Regions from separate parts of the Homo sapiens genome. Here region 2 is linked to region 1. Evidence: fine-mapped expression QTL. A gene starts in region 1. The other region holds a variant in brackets. All regions are shown on one strand. Distances are between the middles of the regions. Region 1 holds the start of DACH1 (dachshund family transcription factor 1). Region 2 has its middle 72 kb from the start of DACH1.

Region 1 (5,378 bases):
CAAAACACAGGGAGAATTTTCTAATATCAGTTACAGTACTTTGAGTTTTGCTTATGCAAATTGAGTGAAGGTTGGGGAAGATGAGATGGAGAGGACCTGAAACAAGCGGAGATGTAAAACAATAAACAAGCAAGACAAAAGCTCTAAAAGCTAAAGATGCAATGGAGTGAGAATTCAAAATCTCTAAGTTGATTTATCTGTTGTTGTTAAATAACTGTTTGCCTTACTCATTGGCAACATTTCTCAAAAAGAAAGAAAGAAAAAGAAAAAAAAAGGAAAGAAAAAAGAGATAAAACCTTCAAAATTTTCAAGGCTTTTATTTCCTACATATTTTAATTTGTGCTATATGCCTTTTCTAATCCTATTGTTTGATTGAAGGGGTAAGTGGTGGTTCCCTGAACTGATTTTGAGACCTGAGGTCAGGAGAAGGAAGGCTGGAGAGCTCTTATTCAGGTGGGGGCAAATGTCTCTCAGCCCTGCTTCTGAGTGGAGCACGTGCTCGGAGGCAAAGGTTTCCCTGCAGTAGAAAATTTGGAGTTTGCTTCGAAGCAAGGTGGGATTATGGCTTGGGCTGCTATCATTACCTCCTGTCTGTAGCTTCCGAATGTGTCAGGTATTGGGTGAGTGATAGTTTAAGGAAATGTAAAAAATGAGAATGGTAATGGCAGATGCTCGGCATTTAATTCCCATTCTTCCATTTGTGGGTCTAGAACTTAAAATAATGAGACTATAGTTTAGTCTTTTAAAACCATATCAAAATTTATTAAAGTTAGGCATAGAATTCGAAAATAAAATTAGCTTTTCAGGGCTTAATACTTTCTTCCTCCCCTCCCCTCATTATAATAGTAGTTTGGTATGTCTTAAAAAAGTAATATTTTCTAAAACATGCAAAAATACTTAAGGAAGTGTTTTGATGTATGTGATATATATTGAATTCCTACTTTTACCCATAACAAATTTGAAGACTGAAACATAAATAAAAATTATTTCTGAATGTATTACAATACATTGGTTAACCAGGCCAAACAACTGTTTAAACTTTAGTTGTCCTTGCAGAAGTTCATGGACTTTTCTGCAACAATCGATTTTCTGAATTCTTATCTCCCAGGAAAGCCTCCTGATTTAACTGCTATGTCCCAAAAATTTTAGTATAATCATACACTAATTAGTCCATAGTGTCATATTTCTATTTTTCGGTAGACAGTTCCTGCACTATTTGACACTGCGATTCACAGAGTTCAAAGGCTTAAAATGATATAGAGAAATGTGATCATTTCAACACCAGAATGGCAAAAATTTTATTATAAAATTTCCCAACCCTGTGAACCTGCTACTAACAGTTTATTTTAAAAATCTGTCAAATGCTAAAGCATTGCTTCATATCTTATGAACTTACTGAACATGTGTGGACCGGTTCAAAGGCTAACTAATTGAAGATACTTGGAGACATGAGCAGCAAATAGATTTGACCCATATTCAAATGATATGTTAGTCAAAAATCCTTGAATAAATACTTCAGTGCAACAAGTTAGAAAAGAAAAGAAAAGGAAAGAGGAAGGAAAGGAGGAATAGAGTCAGTCTAAACTCAGCCTCATGTTGTTTTAAGCACAGCTACCCAAGTCTTTACAAGTCAACTAGTGAGCTTTGTTTTTGTTCTTCCCATTATTTACAAAACATATATTTACTGACAAATTGAAAAGGACTTTCCAAAACTACAGCAGCACTTTTCAAACATGAAAAAAAAAAAAAAAAAACTATTGTGTTGTCCAAAAAACACATTAGCAATTGGCTTTGGGTCTTAAAGGACATGAGGATAGTTGGTTACTGTGTAAGACAGGTGAATTAATTATAGAGTTTTGGGTAAGAAAACCCTTTTTCCACTTTCTAAATCTTCAAGGATACCTTATCTCCTTGATAGCTCTAGGTTTAACAGGTATTTCTGACTGGCTTTTGGGGAGACAGTGAAGTTATTCTAAATCATCCACATCAAGGCAAGCATTTCTTTCCACAACCTATTAGGAAATATGGAATTGAATACAGAGCTTTCCATTATTCTTAAGCGATTTCGGACTGACTTTCTTCTCACCACTTGAAAACTGTCCTGGAATTTTCACTATCTTTATATAAATAAATAATTTAGTAGAGAAATAAACAATCAGATGCAAAAGAACATTACGCTTTGCTTACATGTGAATTTTCCTCAAAATAATTTCTGAATAATCGTGAAGTGGGGGCTGTGTTTTCGTTTCTAGCTCATTGCCAAAACGCGTGGAGATGGATCCTAAATCCTGGAAGGAGAGAGCTCGGCGCGCTCAGGCTCCTCTTTAAGTTGGCGGGCGATTGTTTAGAAGCTTTGGAAAAAATTACCAGTCCCCGCGGACGAAATGGAATGTGAGACATGCAATCTAACGGTAGTAGTAGAAGAGAAGTAGATGATCTCCCTCTCCTTTTCCGATCGCCACTTCTGTGTCCCCGGCTTTTCCTCTCCGTCCCTCCCACAGTTTCTTTCCGTATCCTCCCCCTCCCCTCCTCCTTTCCTCGCACGCTCCCTCTCCAGTGTCTCGCGCTCTCGGAGTCTCTGCTCCGAGTTCCTGGTTGGATAATTTGGGTTAATACTAGTGAGTGAGGTTTTTGCGGCTTCAAAGGGTATTTCAAGTTTCCGGAGCTCCTCCCCTCTGCACCGTGTGACAACAACAACTCGTCCAGCCGGCAGCCTGCACTTTTCAGCTCATTTTCTCTCTGTCATTCCCCTCTCAATCTTTGATCAATGTACTTGCCAGGGAGAGCCCAAGTCCTTCAAACCTCCTCCTTTTCACCTTCATCCTTAACTTTGTGCTAGAGCGAGACCCACACAACAACAGCCGACCCTCCCCGCCCCACCCCCACCCCCAAACCAGCCCTCGATCCCAGCCCCCGGAGAGGACTCGCATTTCGACTTGCGGGACACTTTTGTGCGTTCCTCTCCAGAGCGCCTCTCGTGCTCGCCCCTCTTGCGCTCGCTCTTTATTACCTTCACCTCCTTTTCTCCCCCTTCTCTCCCTTTCTCCTTCTCGTTCTCTCCCGGAGTTGTTGTTGCCCCCCTCGCTCCTTCTCCCCCCTTTTTTCCCCTTCCCCTCCCGGGGGTGTGTGGCAACTTTTCCTCTCGCTTCTCCTCCGTCTGTTTCCCCTTATATGTGACCATGGCAGTGCCGGCGGCTTTGATCCCTCCGACCCAGCTGGTCCCCCCTCAACCCCCAATCTCCACGTCTGCTTCCTCCTCTGGCACCACCACCTCCACCTCTTCGGCGACTTCGTCTCCGGCTCCTTCCATCGGACCCCCGGCGTCCTCTGGGCCAACTCTGTTCCGCCCGGAGCCCATCGCTTCGGCGGCGGCGGCGGCGGCCACAGTCACCTCTACCGGCGGCGGCGGCGGCGGCGGCGGCAGCGGAGGCGGCGGCGGCAGCAGCGGCAACGGAGGCGGCGGTGGCGGCGGCGGCGGTGGCAGCAACTGCAACCCCAACCTGGCGGCCGCGAGCAACGGCAGCGGCGGCGGCGGCGGCGGCATCAGCGCTGGCGGCGGCGTCGCTTCCAGCACCCCCATCAACGCCAGCACCGGCAGCAGCAGCAGCAGCAGTAGCAGCAGCAGCAGCAGCAGCAGTAGTAGCAGCAGCAGCAGTAGCAGCAGCAGCTGCGGCCCCCTCCCCGGGAAACCCGTGTACTCAACCCCGTCCCCAGTGGAAAACACCCCTCAGAATAATGAGTGCAAAATGGTGGATCTGAGGGGGGCCAAAGTGGCTTCCTTCACGGTGGAGGGCTGCGAGCTGATCTGCCTGCCCCAGGCTTTCGACCTGTTCCTGAAGCACTTGGTGGGGGGCTTGCATACGGTCTACACCAAGCTGAAGCGGCTGGAGATCACGCCGGTGGTGTGCAATGTGGAACAAGTTCGCATCCTGAGGGGACTGGGCGCCATCCAGCCAGGAGTGAACCGCTGCAAACTCATCTCCAGGAAGGACTTCGAGACCCTCTACAATGACTGCACCAACGCAAGGTGAGTCGGGGGGGATAGCCCCCGCCGCCCGCGCCCCTTCCCACCAGCCTGCTCGCCTGCCCTCGCTCCTTTCCCGGCGCCGCTCGCTCTGCGCGCCCGCGAGCCGCGCGCCCCGGCGAGCGCGGCCCTCTCCTCTCCCTGCTCGGGGCTCGCCAGCCGCGCCCGACCCCCTGAGAAGTTGGCACCTCACCCTGCCCAGACCTCGCTCTTCGGCCCGGTCCTCCCCTTGCCCTCTGGGTCCCGGGGATGGGCTGCTGTGGGATGTGGGAAAGCCGAGCCTCGGGGCGGAGGGGACGAGAGGGAGGAGGACGGCGCCTTTGCTGGAGCCACAGCCCCCTGCCCCGGGCGCGCGGGCGCCTGGAGACCCCTCTCAGCGCTGCTGTCCGCGTTCGTGCGCTCCCCAGGACCTGGGTTCCACGGCCAGCCTCCCGGCACCGACAGGGCTGATCTGTGGCGCCGAGCGGTGTCCCGGGGGCGGGGGGAGGTCGTGACCTGCTCCGCAGGGCTCGGGGAGCGGGGAGACGCGCTCCGGGTGAGGGCCCCGCTGGGAAAGGCGAGGGAGCGGACCAGCACCCGAGGAGGGCACTTTGAGGTCGGGAGGGAAATGACCCGCGAAGCTGAGAGACCGGGTCCATCCCGGGGGATGGGCTCCGGGGACTTGAGCTCCGAAGCCCGGAGGGGAAGCCAGCCGAGGGGAGGGGTCTGTGTGTTCGCGCATGTGTGCGTGTGTCCGCGTGTGAGCGAGTGCGTGTGCAAAGGAAATAAAGGGGTACGGTGGCCCCGGGGCAGATGCGAGGGCAACCAGCAGGTTTTCTTCGGTAGGGGGAGGTGACCGATTGCCCGAGACTCAATGGAAGCTGAACTGGAGAGATTAGGAAGGAAAGCCACGGAGCGCGCTCTCTCTCGATCTCTCTTTCGAGTTCTCTGTCTCTTTCTCTCCAAAGTGTGTTTTCTTTCTGTCTTTCTCTCTCTTTTCTTTTCTTAAAGGTTAGTAGCTTAAGCAGCGAGCAGGTGCACACTTTGCACTGGGATGCTCAGCGGCCCTGATACTCTGTGCCTTGGCTTCCCCAGCCCAGCAAAGCGCGCGCACGGAGGAGGCGGCGGGACCGGTCCCCAGCCAGACCAGTTTTATGCTAATGAACGCTCAGTGGGGGAGGATCTACCAAGAGGGGGCGGGAGTGGGGCAACTTGTCAGTTTCGGGGTAGAGATGATCATTCCACCCCCTTTCACAGCGCCGCTTTGTCCCCACGGTTCTCTGCAAGGAAGCGCAGAGGCAAAAGTTCAGAGTGAGATTCCGGGAGAAAGAAAATAGGGAAAGTTGAAGACCTGAAGCGGGCACGTGGGAACTGC
Region 2 (5,378 bases), 72 kb before region 1:
ATTTTATTACAGACAGCAAAAAGAAACCAGGTGGACTTTCAGTATTCTACCTGGAAATCTTCTTAGTTAGATCATCCAATTTACCAGATATGTTTTCCTTTTTCCACGTTACCTCAGGCAATAGTGTTGTAAACTTTCTGTCACTGCATAACAATAATCCCCTTATTTCTTGGTTCCAATATCATTTTTGTCACTTTTACTTAAACTCTTACTGACAGTCTCTTCTGGGGCAATCAAACTTTCATTAAGAAAAGCCCTTTAGATTTTCACTAACACTCTCCTCAAAGTTCTTCCAGTTTCTACCTACCGCCTGCTCCCAAAGCCAGTTTTTAAGTTTGTTATAACAGCATACAACTTCTGGGACCAAAATCTGTTACAATTACTGTGGTTGCATCACAAACCACCCCAAAACTTAGTTGCTTGAAAAGTAAACATATTTTGCTTTATTAATCTGCACATTTTACAGTCTCCAGAGAGATAGCTCATCACTGCTGCACTCAACATCAACTGAGGTGGCTCAAAGGCTGGAAGCTCGAGTCATCTGTAAGCTTTCTCAATTCCATGTCTAGAAATTGATACTGGCAATCTTCTGGGATTTTTGTGGGGTTTGTTGGGCAGATCACCTAATCTAGCTCTTCTAGGTAGCTTAGGTAGCCATACAACATGGTGGCCAGATTCAAGTGCAAGTATCCCAAGAGAGATGGTCAAAGAGAAGGTATATCTATTTTAACACCTACTCTTTAGAGATGCTCAGTGTCACTTATGCCACATTCTATTCATTATGGCAGTCACAAAGGCCAGTACAGTTTCAATGGAAGGGGAAACAGAGTCTAATTCTTGATGAGGACTAATGGAGTTTTAGAAGAGAATTTGGAACCAGAAATATTGCTCTCCATTTTGGATAATAGAGTCTTATGATCTGCCACATACTGTCACCCCTTTCTTTTTTTTTTTTTTTTTTTTTTTTTTGAGATGGAGTCTCGCTCTGTCACCCAGGCTGCAGGCTGGAGTGCGGTGGCGCGATCTCCACTCACTGCAAGCTCCACCTCCCAGGTTCATGCCATTCTCCTACCTCAGCCTCCCGAGTAGCTGGGACTACAGGCGCCCGCCACCACACCCGGCTAATTTTTTGTATTTTTAGTAGAGATGGGGTTTCACCGTGTTAGCCAGGATGGTCTCGATCTCCTGACCTCGTGATCCGCCCACCTTGGCCTCCCAAAGTGCTGGGATTACAGGCGTGAGCCACTGTGCCTGGCCACTGTCACCCCTTTCTTACCTTAAATTTATATCTCAACTAACTATAATCTTGCATTTTTTCCCATTTTCATTTATTATGGCTCTTATTTAGTCCAGGGTTCTGTAATTATTGCAGTTCATTGCAGCCCTTGCATGCACACATGCGTGTGTCTGAATATTATTTACATTCAAATGGGAGAAAAAGAATTGGAAATAAGCCACAGCCTCTATCTCATTAGTTTTTCTTTGTTGTTTTGTTTTCTTTTGTTTTGTTTTTGAGACAGAGTCTGGCTCTGTCATTCAGGCTGGAGTGCAGTGGCACGATCTCGGCTCACTACAACCTCTGCCTCCCAGGTTCAAGCGGTTCTCCTGCCTCAGCCTCCTGAGTAACTGGGACTACAGGAACGTGCCACCACACCTGGCTAATTTTTTGTATTATTAGTAGAGACAGTTTTCCACTATGTTGGCCAGGCTGGTCTTGAACTCCTGACCTCAAGTGATCCACCTGCCTTGGCCTCCCAAAGTGCTAGGATTACAGGCATGAGCCACCATGCTCAGCCTATTCCCTTAGTTTTTGTTAGACAGTCACAGGGTGCATATCAGCAGATGTTAGATACCTTAGGTGCTGATTTTTGAGCTATTGTCTTTTATGTTTCCCACCCACCCACCTTATATGCTCTGCAAAACCATATTTCTCTCTTACCAACTGGCTCTCTGTTAGACTTCTACTCATAGGTGCTAGAGGCAACTTGAAGGAGAAAAAGGCAAAAGAAGGTTGTCATTCTCTCCTGTTTGCTTTCAGCTCCTCTCAGCAATACCCAGCAACATTTCTTCATCCTGACAATAAATGTTTGCTCTGGTAGCAATAACTAATTCCACTTTGCATTTGCTCCAACACTTTCAGAAATAACTTCCCCAACCCCACTAAAAATGGAAGCATCAATTGGCTGATACCCCCTCTTCAGAGGATAGAGTCCCAGCCCTGTAGTGCCCCTCCTCCTAGATCAGAGCCACCCCCATCCCCTCCTCCTAGATCAGAGACACCCACACCACGTAGTAGCACATCCTTCTCGAAGGACTGACTTACAATTTTGTGTGACCCCTTCTCCAACACTCAGGTTGCAATAATAGCCCCTTCTTCTGTTTCTCCAGTCCTGGGAGTGGAAGCTGCTTTTTGTGGTTTCTACCTCTGTGATAATTTATGTACCCTTTGTGCCCTTTCACTTCTTCATTACATGCTTAACAATGCTCAATGCCAAATTTTTTCTCTTGAAATAACTGGTGTGGTTTCTGGAATCTGAAATGAACACTAACGGATATAA[T/C]TGACATGCTTTATGTCTCCTGCAAAAAACACCATACAGAAATTTACCTTCCTTTATGGTTAAATCGCTTTACTTCAACCTCCCTCACTTTTTTCTGAGAGGGGATATACAAGAATAAAATAATTTAAAACTGTAAAGTTCTTTGAAGTGCAGTAAAAAAAGTAATTGTGTGTATTATATTTTAAAAATAAAAATGGTGACAAAATAATGCTAAGAATAAAACTAAACAAACAAAAAAATACCACAAATTTTATCATATTTTTCCTTGCTTTCATGAATTTTGCATTGTCTCTATGAGTCAGAGTGGTGAAAGTGATGTATGAAGTCACCAGAGAATCAGTGTCTGGTTGCATTAAAGTCCTTATTTTAGCAAAATTTGGCATATACACTACCTCTTTTGTCACAAATAACATACATGAAATACACTTAAATTTCATTTAATGTTGGATAGTCTATATTGTTTTCAAGATGACACAAATAAAATTATCTCTGCAATAGCATTATTTATAATAATGAAAACTTATGGCTCCAAATTAGATTTATGTGTGATATGTTTAATGTAACAATTTTCTAGAAAGCAAGAAAGTAATGTTACCTTACCTTTTATATTATAGGCATTAATATTATATTAATAGGCATTATATATTATAGGCATTAACAGGAATAAGTAGGAAAAAAAAAACTATGTTGTTTTGATATTATTTGTATTTTCCTCCAAGTTCTTATCAATAATAGTTTTAACATACTGATATATTTATACCTTTTAACCTTGCAAAGGATTTAAAAATTTTTTATCTCTAGTTCATAAAACTAACTTACTATCCTCAACCCCTTTGCTGCACTGATTTTTACCTCCTCGATTTTTGTGTATAAAAAGTCAAACTCTCCCTGGGGTGATAGGGCATTTGTCCCGTGTTGTGTGTACTTTTGGCTGTCTTAGAGAACGTGAGAAGAGGGAATGGTGACTTCCGTTTTGGTGTAGTTTCTAGAAACGTTGCTCATTTATTTCCACTTGCTTTGTCAGAGCTAGGTCAACCCTAGAGGCACTCTTTCCCACTCTTTTTTGTAAAAAGGAAGAAAGGGCAACGGATAATTAGGGAACACGGACTCAGACATTAAAGAAAAAGATGAGCCTACTGATAATGGGAACCTTAAGGGCTGTACTGTTTAAGTATCTGACTCATAGGAGCCACTCAAATAATAATTAAATAAATGTTTTAAGTTTTCCTGGGTGAGTGAACTTTTCATGTTGGCAGGAGCCTCAATCACCTATGAATTTCCTAAGGAAAATGTTTAGGTTATCCTTGGATTTCCTCGAATGCAGAAAGGATGGTTGTTTTCTTAATTCAAACATTGAAAAACAAACAAACAAACAAACAAACAAACAAAAACCCACGGAGAAACTTCACCCTAGTGAATGCAATTCTGTAGACAGAAATTGTTAAGAATATAGGAAAGGTCAATACTTAAACGTGAAGACAGAATTTTGTCAAAAATAAAGTTATAGTTTAAAAAAGCAGCAGGTAGGTTTTAACTTACCTATTGTGGAATTTAACAGGCAAATCTCAAATCTTAGGGGTACACATTGCAGGAAAACATACACAGTATTCGTGAAACATGGCATTGAGCTACAACCCAGGACTGTGTGGTAGTAGACAGGAAAGAAGTAGAAGCAGATTTACTGGTATTTTCCCCATAATTTGGCAATCCTGGGTCTTTATGCAGCTAGACTTTGGAAAATCAGCAAATGAAGATGCAACTGTCAGACTCACAACTGTCACAATTAACCTCAGCCAGAAATTCTAGGGACTGTCTTTGATGCTAATCATTTAGCTTGCCTGAAAACTAAAAGGACTTTGGTAGAAAATTAAAAATACAGGAAGACAAAATATACAAGGTAGAGGTTTATGTCTTGGAGAAAATATATCTAAAGAAACAATTTGAGTCTCTTTTGCTTTATTTTGTTTTGGTTATAGTTTGTTTTTGTGCATTTCAACTGCAGGTAAAAGATTTATGGTAATAAATCTCCAAGTGGGAGGAAACTGCATGAGATCATTTTCACAGTTCTCTCACTAGGAAGGTAAGATATTATGTATCTATTATAGAAAATAGACAACAGAGCTCTAAGAGTGGGTAAAGAAATTGCCCTTGGTCACATATGGTAGTGAAGTCGGAGACTAGAACCCAGATCTCATGTTTCTCATTTTTAGAATTTTCCACTATGTATGCTTCTGATTTCTTAAAGTATGAGCCATTAAACAAATCTAGCACTATGTATTCAAAATACACTTTGAAAATCTCTAAGGTTATCTAAAGTTACCAGTAACAGAAGATGGAGTCTAAGTTATATTCTTTTGCATGTGATTTTAAGGTTTTGAAAAACATGAGGTCAAAATGTTCCTATCCATTAGTTCTGAAAATGCCCTCATTTGACTGTGATTGACAATTTTTGGCAATGATTGATGGACTCTGATGCTCAGTGATAAAAAATGACAGCCTTAAGTGTTTTGAAGAAGTTACATTTCAAAGGAATTAAGTTGCTAATGGATTAACAGTGGTCAATGAAGAAAAAGTCCACCACTACTTTCTACATTACTGGACTATCATTTGTCATAGAATACTGATGATCATTCTCACAAGTTCTTTCCGAGATTTCAATGAAACAGAATTATCTTTCAGGCAAGACTTTATTTTATTATGAATCCTAAGTTAACCCATTAAGTCAGCCACTATGCCCTAGGATGTGATAGTTCACTGGAGACAGCACTAGTTCGCTAGGGCACTTCCTTCATTAACATCAGCTCTTTTGATAGACCCAGA

Evidence for each region.
Region 2: its variant is fine-mapped to the expression of DACH1 in blood mononuclear cells (TOPMed, PIP above 0.99). The same link has a PIP of 0.9 or more in whole blood.

The regions. Positions count from the first base shown.
Region 1 is chr13:71,864,571-71,869,948 of GRCh38, reverse strand. DACH1 (dachshund family transcription factor 1) reads left to right here and starts at 2,745. Exons shown (of 11, transcript NM_080759.6): 1 at 2,745-4,027. The coding sequence starts at 3,180.
Region 2 is chr13:71,936,463-71,941,840 of GRCh38, reverse strand. No RefSeq gene overlaps it. Among named protein-coding and RNA genes, the nearest start is that of DACH1, 72 kb to the right of the region's middle. The variant T/C (reference allele first, on the strand shown) is at 2,559.